Linked DNA regions of Homo sapiens. Each later gene encodes a partner of the first gene's protein in a complex. Each region holds a gene or a part of one and is shown on either strand. Other genes may lie near its edges.

Region 1 (8,275 bases):
AAAACACGGACTATTTTCCTGTGGCACATGGATGAGTTCTGCACCAGCCAAAGGAAGAGAAAGGAAATCTGAGCCAGGACTCCAACCACACAAGTCTGCTCACGTCTCCTCCACTTACTCACTGCCTGCTCCTCTCAAGCCCCTTTGCTAGTTCCTTACCCGCGATTCTAATGAGACGTACTCAGTGCTGAGGCTAAGTCCTTAGACCTCTTCACTTTTCGGCCACTCAATCTAATACCTTTAAAACACCACTCTGTGCTGTGACTGTGCCACTCTCCTGAATTCCAAATCCTACTCAACTGCTAGCTACCCAACTCTGCCATCTAGATGACTAACAGGCATTTTCAAATGTATCAAGCACAAAACTAAGCTTTCCCGCAGCCCCCTCCAGTCCTCCATAGCAAACCGAGATAGGGGATGAGTTGTCCCCATCTCAGTCAACGGTGACTCCATCCCCTCAGTTGCTCAGGCCAAAAACCTCGGAGAGTTCCTTGATTCCTCTCTCTCTCTCACGCTCCAGGACAAGTCCAGTAGCAAAACCTGTTGGCTCTACCCTTAAAACATATGCAGGAAATAAAAGGCATCCAAATTGGAAAGGAAGAAGTAAACTTATTTCTATTCACAGTTGACGGGGTCCTATGCACAGTAAAGCCCAAAGAATACAAAACCCAACAGCTTTTCATGATTTTAAAAAAACACTCGGAAAATAAAATCTGTGTAGATTCCAATCACTCCTCCACCTTCCACTGCTCCCACCTTAGTTGAAGCCACCATCACTTCAGATCATGAGTATGGTCCCTAATCCACCTCCCTAAGCTTGCCCTATCCCCCTTCAATCTCCCATCAGCAGCCAGAGTGAGCTTAAGTCCAGATCAAGTCCCTCCTCTGCTCCACCCCTTCCAGTGCTTCCCAGATTACACAAAGTAGAAGCCAAAATGCTTACTCTGGCTACAAGGCAGGCCCACGCCCGCCCACCTCAGCTCTCTGCTTACATCTGCCCCTTCTCTCCCCCTCACTCACTCTGTTCCAACCCCACTGGCTTGCTTTCTGGGGCTAACCTTCATTGAATGCTTCTAGGTATCAGGCTCTGTGCTAAATACTTTACAGGCACCATCTCACTGAATTCTAAAGAAAATCCTAGGCCAGGCACAGTGGCTCACGCCTGTAATCCCAGCACTTTGGGAGGCCAAGTGGGGGGAAATCATCAGAGGTCAGCAGTTCGAGACCAGCCTGGCCAACATGGTGAAACCCTGTCTCTACTAAAAATCGAAAAAAATTAGCCAGGCGTGGTGGAGGGCGCCTGTAATCCCAGCTACTCGGGAGGCTGAAGAAGGAGAATTGTTTGAACCCGGGAGGCGAAGGTTGTAGTGAGCCGAGATCACGCCACTGCACTCCAGCCTCGGCAACAGAGTAAGACTCCATCTCGGAAAAAAAAAAAAAAAAAAAAAGAGAAAATCCTATGAAGTAGGCCATGCTATTATACTCACTTTGCAGAGGAGGTAACCAAGGCTTGGAGTGGTGACATAACATGGGGAAACCTCTGAAGCCTGCACTGATCTGCACCACCCCACCTACAGTCATGGTCAAAACCTCAGACTTACAGCATGACAGGGCAGGCAGGGGTGGGGTGGGGGATAAGGAGGGGGCAGGAAAAGCCTGGTTGTACAACCTGATGCTGCAAGAAAGGGAATACACACCTTTTGTTCTCACCTGGTTTTCAAAGCTTTCACACAGATCAACTTGTTTACTCTCTCCACAGAGCCAGCAACAGATGCAATGAGCTTCTCTTCTCCCATATACGTTCCATGGCCCCTGATGCAAGGCGAAGATACAAAGAAAGGATACGAGGGTAACTCGAAATGACTTCTCTCCCTTCAAGAACAACGTGTTCCTCAAAGCTAACAGGCTCCCCCTGCAAAGCGTGGCTTCTGTGCTGGCTGCTCCCTCTGCCTTCAGTGCTCCTTCTCCAGACAGCTACTTGGACATCACTCCTCTCACTCAGGTCTGCTCAGGTGTCACTTTCTGCAGCAGGCCTACCTTGACTGTGCCATTGAAAACACAGCCCACCCTGTTGCCACCATTCCCCCCACATACCATTGACCCTGCTCCACTTTTTTCCCTATTGCATTATTGCCTAACATTCTGAATAACTTATTCATTGCGCTTATTATCTATCTCTCCCTGTTAGAACTCCACCAGGACAGAGATTTTTCACTCTGCCATAATAACCCAACTGCACAAAATATATGTTGAAAGCATTAATGAAAGAATGAATCTTAAGATTTCCTAGGGGCCAGGCATGGTGGCTCATGCCTGTAATCCCAGCACTTTGGGAGGCCGAGGCGGGCAGATCACACTTGAGGTCAGGGGATCGAGACCAGCCTGGCCAACACAGTGAAACCCTGTCTCTACTAAAAAAAAAAAAAACCAAAAATTAGCTAGGCATGGTGGCGTGCACCTGTAATCCCAGCTACTCAGGAGGCTGAGGCAGGAGAATCACTTGAACCCAGGAGGCAGAGGTTGCAGTGAGCCGAGATCGCACGACTGATCTAAGACAGACTCCGTCTCAAAAAAGAAAAAAAAATTTCCTGGTATCCACTAACCTTAAACTAACAGGTTAAAGGGCAATGCTATGAATGCTGTGCCCCTTGTACATATACAAGTAAAAAAATAATAATAATAAAGGTTGAAACACTAGTGTTATCTATGATGATATAATGGCTGGTTTTACTTCTTTTCTTACATAATTGTCTCATTTAATCCTCATTACCGTATCATACTGTTATTATCACTATCTTACAGATGAGGAAACTGACCGTGGAGAGGCAATGCCGCTAATAAGATGTGATGGTAGCAGGACCGGAACCCCAACTGTCTGACTCAAGAGCCTTCCCTCTTAACCACAATACACTGCACTACACCCCTTAGATTCAAAATGTGTATAAATGGGTGCATGCAGCACAATGTAACTGTTTGCCCTAAGATCGAACAATTACGGATTCTAAACTGAAGAGGAGGCAGCCAAGAACGCCCACCGTCCCCTCAGAGAGCTGAAAACTGGAAAAGAGCCTGCACCTAACCCTCCCCAGCTTTCCAGGTCTCCCACAAGGAAGGATCAAAGATTTGGACTTCAGGCAGAAGACCCAAAAGTCACAGCCACCGGAGGTCAGGAGTGGAGGGTTTCAGGGAGCTGAGACAAATGCAGACGGGGACACACAAGATGCAGGGAGCAAGAAGCACGAGGCTCGGAAGCGAGGTGTGTAGGATGCTCAGACGAAGTGCCCTGGGTCCCGCGGGGAGTTACACACACAGGGATACGAGGCCTGGACCACGTGCAGAGAGCCCTGAAGCCGCTCTCTGAAGCCTCGACTCCCCCAAGTCCCCACGTACCGCATGAATCCTGTGTCCGTAGTGATTGTATCCCCCGGCACCACTAGATGTTTCTTAGTGTCGCGGCCCAGTCTCTCGCTAAGAGGCTTGCGAGCCACTGGAAGCCTCATCTCCATCGCCATCTTGGCGCCAATGAGTTGCGCAGGCGCAGCTCAGTCGGGAGCTGCGATATCCGACTCCACAACTCCAGGCCGCGTTCGGAGGGGCGGGGAAGGGCGGGGACTCAGAGCAGCTGCCAATGAGAACTCACGGCCTAGAGGCCATGTTTACAATTGGCAACAATAAGGCGAACCCGAAGGGAAGGGAGCCGAGCTGCCATGTCTACTATTGGCAAGGAAGCACCCGTGGAATAATAAAATCTCACGTTGTGTGGCGTGTGACTTTTTACCAAAACTGTCTTGTACTCATCATCCCATTTATTGTTTACCAGGGTTAGAGATAATTGAGAAACGGACCTCTGAGTTTCTGTCCAATTCTAAGCTGCTGAAATCCGATATTTTGTAAGAGAGAGCTCAGGAGGATGGAGAGATGGGATCTACAGAAAACACTATTTGAACAGAAAGAAGAGCCCCTTTCCACACGGTTCCCAGTAGCGCCAGGATTCTACATTGCGGCCGCCCCGTGGGTGCTGGCTCAACATCATCATCTATAACCCCAAACCGGGCTCCAGATACTTCTCACTTGGTTCTGTCCTTTCATAAGGACTCCTTTGAACAAGCTAATTTACTCCAATATTTCTTTTGGAAACAAGTTAAAAATCGTCTAAGAAAACAGGTCAAACCTTGCAAGCCAGGTATATTTGGTAGGGAAGGGAAGAGCACACACAATGCGAAGATCTTGGCTTGCATTTAGTTACACAGCGAGTTGAGCGCTCTCTGTGTGCCAGGCGCTGTTCTAAGGACTCAGCGGGGAACAGACGGATGTCTCTGTGGGTTTTTCTGCGGCTCCGTTTTAATAGGAGGGTACCCCTCGCCCCTTCTCCCCGTCCCCCACTACCCTCTCCCTCTCCTTGCCCTGCATTCACAAGAAACTAATTGGGGATGGTAACTCCCCATGCACAGGGACTCTAAAGACGATTAAATGAAATCATTGGCATCAGCTGTGGTCAGTAAAGCCGGTAAACCAAGTCCGCCTCCTGAAGAAAGATCCATCGAGCCAATTGTTTTATAAATCTCCAAAGCGACAGCATTTCTTCCACTTAAGCAAGTCTCACGACCACACTTAAGAAAGCCAGCCCTGCCAGGCAGTCGATGACATGAATGCTAGTGCCCCGAGGCCCTGGGTAAGCGGGCTGCCAGACCCTCGCCCTCTGCCGTGCCTGGAGGAAGGCACTAGAGCCCAGCCCCTCGGTCCAGTCCTGCCGCGGCCATAAGAGGGCGATGGTGTCCTCTGAGCTCGCGTAGCCCGGCAGCCGGGGAGCCAGGCCCAGCGAGCGGCCCTAGGCGGAGCGAGAGTGTAGGCCTGACACCATCCAAGTTCTTCCCGGGAGGGAGAGACGTCGCCTTTACCCCGCGCATTCTCACAGCGTTCACAAGGTTGGCATTGTGGATACCAGTTTATGGAGGAGGAAATCGAGGCCCCAAAAGGAATGGAATTCACATTAGCAGATGGCTGCAAAGCCGATGTGTGTTCCAACTGCACGCGATTTACCCCAGAGCCTGCACCCTTTACCAGAAATAGCCCGAGTGCTTCGGCTGGTCCTTTGCTGAGTGCTTTACAAATACTATGTTATGTATTCCTCACTTTCAGCCCATCTTCGAGATAGGCATTGCTATCCCTGATGATCACTTGGGGCCACCGAGCCCCCCAAACAGACCCGTAACTGGGACTAGAATCCAAAACGACAGGGACTCCCCCTCTCCCATCCCCAGTGCTCCTCTTTCTGCATCATCACACGCACCTTTTTTTATTTTTATTTTTTTCGAGACAGAGTCTTTGTCACCCAGGCTGGAGTACAATGACACGATTATGGCTTACTGCAGCCTCGTCCTCCTGGGCTCAGGTAATCCTACCACCTCAGCCTCTTGAATAGCTTGGACTACAGGCACATGCCACCAGGCTCGGCTAATTTTTTGTATTTGTCTTGTGAAGACAGGGTTTCACCGTGTTGCCCAACCTGATCTCGAACTCCTAAACTCAAGTGATCCGCCCACCTTGGCCTCCCAAAGTGCTGGGATTACAGGCATGAGCCACCAAGCCCGGCCACACTTACCCCTTTACGACCAGTAGACAAGTGGGTACCCGGAGACGAAGCAGCACATCCCAGGGGGCTTGTAAAAAGTATAGATTCCTTAGGCATTGAGGCTGTAAACCCCGAATATCTGAGACAGGTCTCAGTTAATTTAGAAAGTTTATTTCACCAAGATTGAGGATGTGCCTGTGGCACAAGCTCAGGAGGTCCTGACAACCTGTGCCCAAGGTGGTCGGAGCGCAGTTTGGTTTTATACATTTTGGGGAGACATGAGGCATCAATCAACATATGTGAGATGAATATTGGTTCGGTCTGGAAAGGCTGGACAACTCGAAGCTGGGAAGGGGCTTCCTGGTGATAGGTAGATAAGAAACAAATGGTTGAGGCCAGGCGCGGTGGCTCACGCCTGTAATCCCAGCACTTTGGGAGGCCGAGGTGGGCGGATCACGAGGTCAGGAGATCGAGACTACCCTGGCTAACACGGTGAAACCCCGTCTCTACTAAAAATACAAAAAAAAAAAAAAAAAAAAAATTAGCCGGGTATGGTGGCTGGTGCCTGTAGTCCCAGTTACTCGGGAGGCTGAGGCAGGAGAATGGCTTCAACCCGGGACGCGGAGTTTGCAGTGAGCCGAGATCGCACCGCTGTACTCCAGCCTGGGCGACAGAGTGAGACTCCGTCTCAAAAAAAAAAAAAAAAAAAAAGAAAGAAAAAAGAAACAAATGGTTGCATTTTTTGTATTTTTAGTTTCTGATTAGCGTCTCCAAAGGAGGCAATCAGGTATGCATTTATCTCAGTGAGCAGAGGGGTGACTTTGAATAGAACGGGAGGCAGGTTTGCCCTAAGCAGTTCCCAGCTTGACTTACTTTTCCCTTTAGCTTAGTGATTTTGGGGCCCCAAGATTTATTTGCCTTTCACAAGGCTCTGCAAAGGTAAGGTCCAGAAGTCTGTGCGTGTTTTAACTCCCTATGTAATTTCAATGGCGGAAAAGGTCTAAGATTCACTGATGCCACACATCTGTGCATCTCCGCAGCCACTGCCCCAGGCTGATCAACGGCATCTCTTACCAGGGAGATAACCTCCTAGCTTGTCTTCCTAATTCTACTTTTGTCCTTCCTATCATCCAATCTCCGCACAGCAGCCAGAGAGAGCTTTAAAAACAGATTAAATCACTTCTCTGCTTCCAGCACTTCTTGACTCCTGCCTGTCTCTGACCTCACGCTCGTCCTAACCCACTGCGTTACTCACTATGCTGCAGCCGGACTGTTAACGGTGGAGGGTGCCCAGCTTCTCGGCGTCTTGGACAAAACATACAGACAAAACAAGGAAAGAATAAAGCAACAAAAGCAGAGATTTATTGAAAACGAAAGTACACTCTACAGGGCAAGAACAGCTCAAGCAAAGAAACTCAACAGGCTCCTTACAGAAGTTTCTGGGGTTTAAATACCCTCTAAAGGTTTCCCATTGGTTATTTGGTGTACGCCCTGTGTAAATGAAGGAGTGGCCCGTGATCAGTCTGATTGGTTGTGGAAAGTGGCCAATCAGAGGCTGAAGTTAAAAGTTACACCCTACGCCAATGTCTGATTGGCTGTGGAAAGTTATCAATCAGAGGCTGAAGTGAAGTTACAAAGTTATACTCCCATGCAAATGAAGACTTGGCCACCTACCAGCCTGACTGGTAGTGGGAAGGGAGCAATCAGAGGTACTTTCAGTTTTTCATCTGCACACAGAAAAGCTGGGATTGCAAAGGGAGTAGCCTCTGGTCCTTTGGTTACTTGGACGTGGAAAGTTGGGGTTTTCCTTTTGATTTAGTTCTAGAAAGTCAGTGTGAATCAGCCTTATGTTCCCTGCCTCCAGACCCTATTCTCCTGCCTCAAGACTAGCTGGCTTCCCCTCGGTTCCACAGCACCAAGCTTCTCATCACTCCAGGGCCCTTCACTCTGGTCTCTTTCTGCATGAATTCTCTTCTCCCAGGCTTTTGTGTGGCTGGCTCCTTCTCCTCACTCATGGCTTGCTCAAACATCACCTCCTCAGAGAAGACTTCCCTGATCACCTTATCTGGAATAACTTTCCAGTCCTTTTTTTTAATCCCTTGATCCTGTTTTACTTCTTGTCACTGATTTTTCTTTTTCTTTTCTTTTCTTTCTTTTTTGAGAGAGAGACTTGGTCTTGTCACCCAGGCTGGAGTGCAATGGCGCGATCTCAGCTCACTGCAACCTCTGCCTCCTGGGTTAAAGAGATTCTCCTGCCTCAGCCTCCGGAGTAGCTGGGATTACAGGAACCCATCACCACGCCCAGCTAATTTTTGTATTTTTAGGAAATACGGGGTTTCACCATGTTGGCCAGGCTTGTTTCAATCTCCTGACCTGAAGTGATCTGCCCACCTTGGCCTCCCACAGTGCTGGGATTACAGGTGTGAGCCACCATGCCTGGGCTTCAATTTTCTTTCTTTTTTTTTTTTTTTTTGTTCATTGATTGCAGTCTCCCCCCACTAGAACATGCATTGCTGAAAACAGGGACTTTATCTATTCTGTTCATCATATATCAATGCTTAGATCCAGGCCTGGCACACAGGGCAGCCATAAAATATTTGTTGAAAAAAATACAATATATTTACAAAATACAGATTTGCTTGTCTGCTCATCGCCTGTCTTCCCACAGGATATGAGCCCCACCAATACCCAGACTGTCCATTT
Region 2 (7,830 bases), on another chromosome or scaffold:
CACTTTTCAATTCAGATTTAACATTTCCTGGAGTACCCACTATATCAGTGATGTGTATCAAATACTTTTAGACATGTTATTTATTTATTTATTTTGAGACAGAGTCTCGCTCTGTTGTCCAGGCTGGAGTGCAGTGGTGCAATCTCGGTTCACTACAACCTCTGCCTCCAGGGTTCAAGCGATCTTCCTGCCTCAGCTTCCTGAGTAGTTGGGATTACAGGCATGTGCCACCACGCCCGGCTAATTTTTGTATTTTTAGTAGAGATGGGGTTTCACCATGTTGGCCAGGCTGGTCTCAAACTCCTGACTTCAACCCAACTCGGCCTCCCAAAGTGCTGGGATTTACAAACATGAGCCACCATGCCTGCCTCACATGCTATCTGTATCACCACGTGTCCTCAAATTTTCATTAAATCACAATGTACCTAAATGAAGGGGACGTATGTAAAGCACCTGACTCAGTGCCTAGCACAGTAAGTACTCAATAAGCAGAAGTACTGAAATGTCCTGACACCATTTAGATGTCTTTCTCTGCTTAAGACAACAGACTCTATAACATCCTTTTAGTAAAAAAGTTTTATCATAGCAAAAAATATGTATTTATAAGGACTGTCAGGAGGGATAGGCTATTTCCAATATCACAGTTTTGTTTGTTGGTGCCTTGAAAAGATAAGATTTATTACTCAAGAGAATGAAATCCACTGATAGGTTCACAGAAACATGTTCCATCTACAGCGTAAACTGGAAGATTTTTCTGGAAGTGGCTGTTGGCCGACGCCAGGTGTTTGAATAAAGACAGCAGCATCTTGGTGTTATACTCAGGAACAGCTTACCCCCTTCCATAGGGTAAAAAGTGGCTTCTTAGGTCTGCAAGAATTCGGGTTGTACTCGGGCTACTTTCCGGAATTCTTTAGTGTGGGTCTTAGGGCACTGCATCTCACACCAGCTGATGGGAACCATCTGGATACCTGGAAGGGAAAAGCTGGTGGTGGAGCCCAGACCCCAAAGATTTGCCTGCGACTCCTCTTTTATGCTGGGTATGAAGCTGAAGTGCCACCAAGCTTCCTACTGAACCTCAACTCATAAAGAAAAAACTTTGTTCATTCTACTGACTTATGAAGTGAGTCCCGTTTCCTTGGATTTATATAAGGAGAATCAGGCTGGGCGTGGTGGCTCACACCTGTAATCCCAGCACTTTGGGAGGCCAAGGCGGGCAGATCATTTGAGGCCAGGAGTTTGAGACCAGCCTGGCCAACATGGCGAAACCCTGTCTCTACTAAAAATACAAAAATTAGCTAGGTGTGGTGGCGTGTGTCTGTAATCCCAGCTACTTGGGTGACAAGAATTGCTTGAACCAAGGAGGTGGAGGCTGTGGTGAGTGGAGATGGCACCACTGCACTCCAGCCTCCTCGACAAAGTGAGACCCTGTCTCAAACAACCACCACCACCAGCACCAAGCAAAAAAGAAAAAAATAATCATTCTAATCTCAGAGGGAAATATCTATAGCCATACTGCTTCCCAGATAAGGGAAACCAGGAAAAACAATGGATTTATCCCAAACCATAGATCCAGGGAAAGTAAGGATGTGGAAACAAGGCCATCTCACCTGACTCACTGTGGGCTACCACCACTCCCAGCTCGTTCTCGGCGGTGGTTAGCAGGTAGTTGGACTGTGCATCACCTAAGGAGATCTAGTCACATAACACCGGTGAAGGAAAATGAGGAGTTAGAAGTCTTCCCCCACCTTAGCCACCTGAGTTGTTTTTCTACCTTTTTTTTTTTCTGAGATGGAGTCTTGCTCCGTTAACCAGGCTGGAGTGCGGTGGCGTGATATCAGTTCACAACCTCTGCCTCACAGGTTCAAGCGGTTCTCCTGCCTCAGCTTCCCGAATAGCTGGGATTACAGGCATGTGCCACCACGCCCAGCTAATTTTTGTATTTTTAGTAGAGACAGGGTTTCACCATGTTGTCCAGGCTGGTCTCGAACTCCTGACCTCAGGTGATCCACCCGCCCTGGCCTCCGAAAGTGCTGGGATTACAGGCATGAGCCACCACACCCGGCCTCCTTCTCTTCTTTTGACAAAGGACCAGAAGTCTGCTGGGAATAAAGGATACCACTTTGGCCAAGACAATGTCACCTGGGCGGAAACTCTTATAAATTTCAACCTGTAAAGAAAGAACAGGAATGTTAAGTGAAAGCTCTAGACTGGGTCTATATGAAACTGTGAACGCTTCTGGTAAAGCCAATCTACTTTCTAATCCTGGAGGGTAGAAATCATCATTACTCATGTCAAGTCAAGAACTTTTAATTGCTTCTACAGTATTATCATACAAATGAAAATTTTTTTTTTTTGAGATGGAGTCTCGCTCTGTCGCCCACACTGGAGTGCAGTGGTGCGATCTCGGCTCACTGCAACCTCTGCCTCCCGGGTTCAAGCGATTCTCCTGCCTCAGCCTCCTGAGTAGCTGGGATTATAGGTGCATGGCACGACACAGGCTAGTTTTTATATTTTTAGTAGAGACGGGGTTTCACCATGTTGGTCAGGCTGGTCTTGAACTCCTGACCTTGTGATCCGCCCACCTTGGCCTCCCAAAGAGCTGGGATTACAGGTGTGATCCACTGCACCCGGCCCTTTTTTCTTTTTTTTTAAGAGGTGGGATCCCACTGTGTCACCCAGGCTGGAGTGCAGTGATGCAATGGTAGCTCACTGCAGCCTTGGACTGCTGGACCAAGGGATCCTCCTGCCTCAGCCTCCCAAGTAGCTAGGACTACAGGTGCGTGCCACCACTTAACCTCAAACTCCTGGGCTCAAGCAATCCTCCAGCCACATCCTCTCAAGCAGCTGGGACTACAGGCATGAGCTACCATGCCTGGCCAATTTTTGAATTTTTAAAATTTTTGTAGAGACAGGGTCTCGCTATGTTGCCAGGGCTGGTCTTGAAGTCCTGGACTCAAGTGATCCTCCCGCCTCAGCCTCCCAAAGTACTGGGATTACGGGTGTGTGTGACCATGCCTGGCCTGAGATAATACTTTTAAGGGATTGAGATACGTAAAGCCATTAAAAAAAAAGAACCAACCAACAACCTTGTCTTTTTCAGTTGCTCGGACATCTTCCTTGCTATAAAAAAAGAATTAACAGAAAGATTAATTACCTGTGAGAAAGAATTTTTTTTTTTTTTTTTTTTGAGACAGAGTCTCCCTCTGTCACCCAGGCTGGAGTACAGTGGCGCAATTTTGCTCACTGCAACCTCCGCCTCCTGGGTTCAAGCAATTCTCGTGCCTCAGCCTCTCAAGCAGCTGGAATTACAGGCACGTCCGCCATGCCCAGCTAGTTTTTTGTATTTTTAGTAGAGATGGGGTTTCACCATGTTGGCCAGGCTGGTCTTGAACTCCTGACCTCAGGTGATCCACCCGCCTCAGCTTCCCAAAGTGCTGGGATTACAGGCATGAGTCACCTTGCCCAGCCTGTGAGAAAGAATTATTCTGTAGATTCCTAGTAAATAAAGAGCTACAAGAACAGACAGAACAAGTTGTAAATGGGACACAGCTGCTACCCAGAGGAGCAGGGTGGAGAAGCATCCTCAGACCACATGGAGAGGCAGTATCAATACCTCTGATTAGATAAAGGCAGATCGGATTTGGCAAGAAAGGATAAGGAATTTCGTTGCCTCAGGGCTTGAACAGAAGCACTATAGCAAGGGCCCCCAACTTCTGGTGGCCTGTGAGGAACCGGGCTGCATAGAAGGAAGTGAGTGGCAGGCAAGCTTCATCTGTATTTACAGCTGCTTCCCAATCGCATACATTACTGCCTGAGCTCCGCCTCCTGTCAGATCGAAGTGGGCATTAGATTCTCATAGAAGTATGAACCCTATTGTGAACTGCACATATGAGGGAGCTAGGCTGCCCACTCCTTATGAGAATCTAATGCCTGATGATCTGTCACTGTCTCCCATCACCCCCAGATGGGACCATCGAATTGCAGGGAAACAAACTCAGGGCTCCCGCTGATTCTATATTATGGTGAGCTGTATAATTATTTCATTATATATTACAGTGTAATAATAACAGAAATAAAGTGCACCATAAATGTAATGCACTTGAATCATTCTGCAACCACCCCCTCCATGGTCTGTGGAAAAACTGTCTTCCAAGAAACTGGTCCCTGGTGCCAAAAAGGTTGGGGACTGCTGCACTACAGAACCACATCAAATCCTGAGGCTGGAAAGGGCCTCAAAAGTTAGATTATCTGCCTGGCAAGAAATGTTTGTCCTTTCTCAAGGAAGCCACACGAAATCACCATCTCACCCACAAATCTTTTCAATGTTTTATAACCTCTGAGTTCAATCTATATTAAATTTTAAAGTGCTTCCTAAAATGCCTTCTACTTTTTTTTTTTTTTTTTTTGAGACGGAGTTTCACTCTTGTTGCCCAGGCTGGAGTACAATGGCACGATCTTGGCTCACCGCAAGCTCCGCCTCCCAGGTTCAAGTGATTCTCCTGCCTCAGCCTCCCTAGTAGCTGGGATTATAGGCATGTGCCACCACGCCTGGCTAATTTTGTATTTTTAGTAGAGACGGTGTTTCTCCATGTTGGTCAGGCTGGTCTCGAACTCCCGACCTCAGGTGATCCGCCCGCCTCGGCCTCCCAAAGTGCTGGGATTACAGGCATGAGCCACCACGCCCAGCCTGCCTTCTACTTTGGTTTGAGTCATCCTGACACTGCTAAACTTCAGCTTCACTCAATTCTTTTTGCTTTACCTTTTATTTATTTATTTGTTTTTTGAGACAGGGTCTCACTCTGTTGCCCAGGCTAGAGTGCAGTGGTGCAATCTCAGCTCACTGCAACCTCTGCCTCCTAGGCTCAAGTGATCTTCCTGCTTCAGCTCCACAAGTAGCTGGGAGTACAGGCACGCACCACCATGCCCAGCTAATTTTTTTTTTTTTTTTTTTTAAAGACAGAGTCTCGCTCTGTCCCCCAGGCTGGAGTGCAATGGCGCAATCTTGGCTCACTGCAACCTCTGCCTCCTGGGTTCAAGCGATTCTTTGGCTTCAGCCTCCTGAGCAGCTGGGATTACAGGCACACGCCAACATGTCCGGCTAGTTTTTGTATTTTTAGTAGAGACAGGGTTTCACCACACTGGCCAGGCTGGTCTCAAACCCCTGACTTTGTGATCCACCCACCTCAGCCTCCCAAAGTGATAGGATTACAGGTGTGAGCCACTGTGCCTGGCTAATTTTTGTATTTTTTACAGAGATGGGGTTTCACCATGTTGGCTAGGCTGGTCTCAAACTCCTGATCTCAAGAGATCCACCCGCCTCAGCTTCTCAAAGTGCTAGGATAACAGGCGTGAGCCACCGCGCCCAGCCTTTGCTTTACTTTTAAACCCTCTCGTTAATATTTTCCTTTTGTCCTAGATCATCCATGTATTTTTTGGATACTACTAGGGGAGAATCAAAGCACAAAGAAGAAAGAAAAACGGGCAAAAGAAAAATAGGAATTGTAACTGTTGCTCAAAATTCTGGTGTCCTAGTCTATCCTAATCTTATTCCAGTTGCTAAGGTATATGTGAAAAGGATACTTCTTACCGGATAGTTCCTCGAAAAGAGTTCTTAAGAGGCATGGACCCCACATACAGGATGTGTACTTTGGCAAAGCGTGAATTGATGCTAGAGACCTGCGGAATAGAGAAAAGATCAGCATCAGAGTATAAGCAGTTGTCAGCTCAAGGAGGCAGCAATAAACTGGGGATTACTAGGGCTTCAGTGCAAGCAACCCTACTAAGTAGAGAATTTAAGACAAATTAACTCCTACTTCTCTCTGCGTAAGTGACACATGTAAAGAGGAATAAGAGCCACTCTGGCCACCTGGTAGAGTTACTATGGGAAACAAAGGTGGTATGGGTTTTTTTTTTTTTTTTTTTTTGAGACGGAGTTTCACTCTTGTTGCCCAGGCTGGAGTGCAATGGCGCGATCTTGGCTCACCGCAACCTCCGCCTCCTGGGTTCAAATAATTCTCCTGCCTTAGCCTCCTGAATAGCTGGGATTACAGGCATGCACCACCATGCCCAGCTAATTTTGTATTTCTAGTAGAGACAGGGTTTCTCCATGTTGGTCAGGCTGGTCTCGAACTCCTGATCTCAGGTGATTCGCCTGCTTCAGCCTCCCAAAGTGCTGGGATTACAGGTGTAAGCCACTGCATCCGGCTGGGTTTTTTTTTTTTTTTTTAAATCTTTTCACAACTTGCCCTTCAGAGAGGTATAGACTTTTTAAAGTATAGATGGCTAACAATTAAAAAAAAAAAAAAAAAAGAGGCTGGACACAGTGGCTCATGCCTGTAATCCCAGCACTTTGGGAGGCTGAGGTGGGCGCATCACTTGAGGTCAGGAGTTCAGGACCAGCCTGGCCAACATGGTAAAACCCCACCTGTACTAAAAATACAAAAATTAGCCAGGCGTGGCAGCACATGCCTATAATCCCAGCTACTCGGGAGGCAGAGGCAGTAGAATTGCTTGAACCCAAGAGGCCAGAGGCTGCAGTGAGCCGAGATCGTGCCACTGCACTCCAGCCTGGGTGACAGAGCAAGGCCCTGTCTCAAAAAAAAAAAAACAGGAATGGCAAAAAATAAAGTCTTTTGCTTCTCTGCAGAAAAAGAACTCAGCTTCAGATGTTCAAAAATAGGCCTCCTAATCATCCTCTGGCATCCCTGTTTCCCAGACACAGGTAGAACTATGTATTCAGGGAATCAGCTCAGTGAAGGAACTATGCATGCCTGAACTTGGCTGCCTTGATTATTATCCTAGAAATCTGTAAGCCTGCACAGTCCAGTAAAACTTTCTGTGATGACAGAAAAGTCATGTGCTGACCAGTATAGCAACCACTAGCCACAAGTGGCTATTGAGTACTTGAAATGTGGCTAATGTGACTAAGGAAATCAATTTTATTTTTTTCTTGAGAGACAGAGTCTTGCCCTGTTACCCAAGCTGGAGTGATCATGGCTCACTGCAGCCTCAACCCCCTGGGCCCAAGCGATCTTCCTGCTTCAGCCTCCCAAGTAGTTGGGACCACAAGCATGTGCTACCATGCCTGGCTAATTTTTTATTCTTCTTCTTCTTTTTTTTTGAGACGGAGTCTCACTCTGTTGCCCAGGCTGGACTGCTGTGACGCAGGCTCACTGCAACCTCCACCTCCTGGGTTCAAGCACTTCTCCTGCCTCAGCCTCCCGAGTAGCTGGGATTACAGGCATGCACCACCACGCTAAGCTAATTTTTGTATTTTTGGTAGAGACAGGGTTTCACCATGTTGGCCATGATTGGCCAGGCTGGTCTTGAACTCCTGACCACAGGTGATCTGCCCACCTCGGCCTCCCAAAGTGCTGGGATTACAAGCATGAGCCACCATGCCCGGCAATTTTTGATTCTTTTTGTAGAGATGAGGTTTCACTATGTTTCCCAGGCTGGTCTTGAACTCTGGGCTGAAGCAATCCTCCTGCCTCGGCCTCTTAAAGTGCTAGAATTACCAGTGTGAGCCACTGTGCCCTGCCAGAAATAAATTTATGTAGCTTGTGGCTATCATACTGGACACTGCAGTTCTGGTATGGTCATGATTTCAGTATTGAATGGGCATTCTAAGCATGGAGGTCAGGACCAACTTACCTTACAGGTTACAATAGCTCCCACATCTGGCAGTAACTGGGACTCTGTTTCTCTCACTACAGACACCACTGGAAGCTACAGAGGGAACAACAAAAAACTGAAATGTCCTGACTAACCCTTGGGTCAAGGCATTTGTGGCTTGAGAGTAATATAGGAATGTCTTGGTATAAAGGTGAG

What was found.
Region 2: EXOSC2 (region 1) and EXOSC1 share a complex: the UniProt entries of both Homo sapiens proteins name them as parts of the RNA exosome core complex.

Annotation. Positions count from the first base shown.
Region 1 is NC_000009.12:130,689,029-130,697,303, reverse strand, and holds the start of EXOSC2 (exosome complex component RRP4), read right to left. Parts: upstream 3,525-8,275; 5' UTR 3,513-3,524; coding exon 3,391-3,512; intron 1,813-3,390; coding exon 1,711-1,812; exon of another isoform or gene 1,698-1,710; intron 1-1,697. UniProt on the Homo sapiens protein: Non-catalytic component of the RNA exosome complex which has 3'->5' exoribonuclease activity and participates in a multitude of cellular RNA processing and degradation events.
Region 2 is NC_000010.11:97,435,584-97,443,413, forward strand, and holds the end of EXOSC1 (exosome complex component CSL4), read right to left. Parts: intron 7,729-7,830; coding exon 7,654-7,728; intron 5,677-7,653; coding exon 5,588-5,676; intron 3,121-5,587; coding exon 3,087-3,120; coding exon of another isoform or gene 3,080-3,086; intron 2,168-3,079; coding exon 2,117-2,167; intron 1,693-2,116; coding exon 1,608-1,692; intron 969-1,607; coding exon 862-968; 3' UTR 326-861; downstream 1-325. UniProt on the Homo sapiens protein: Non-catalytic component of the RNA exosome complex which has 3'->5' exoribonuclease activity and participates in a multitude of cellular RNA processing and degradation events.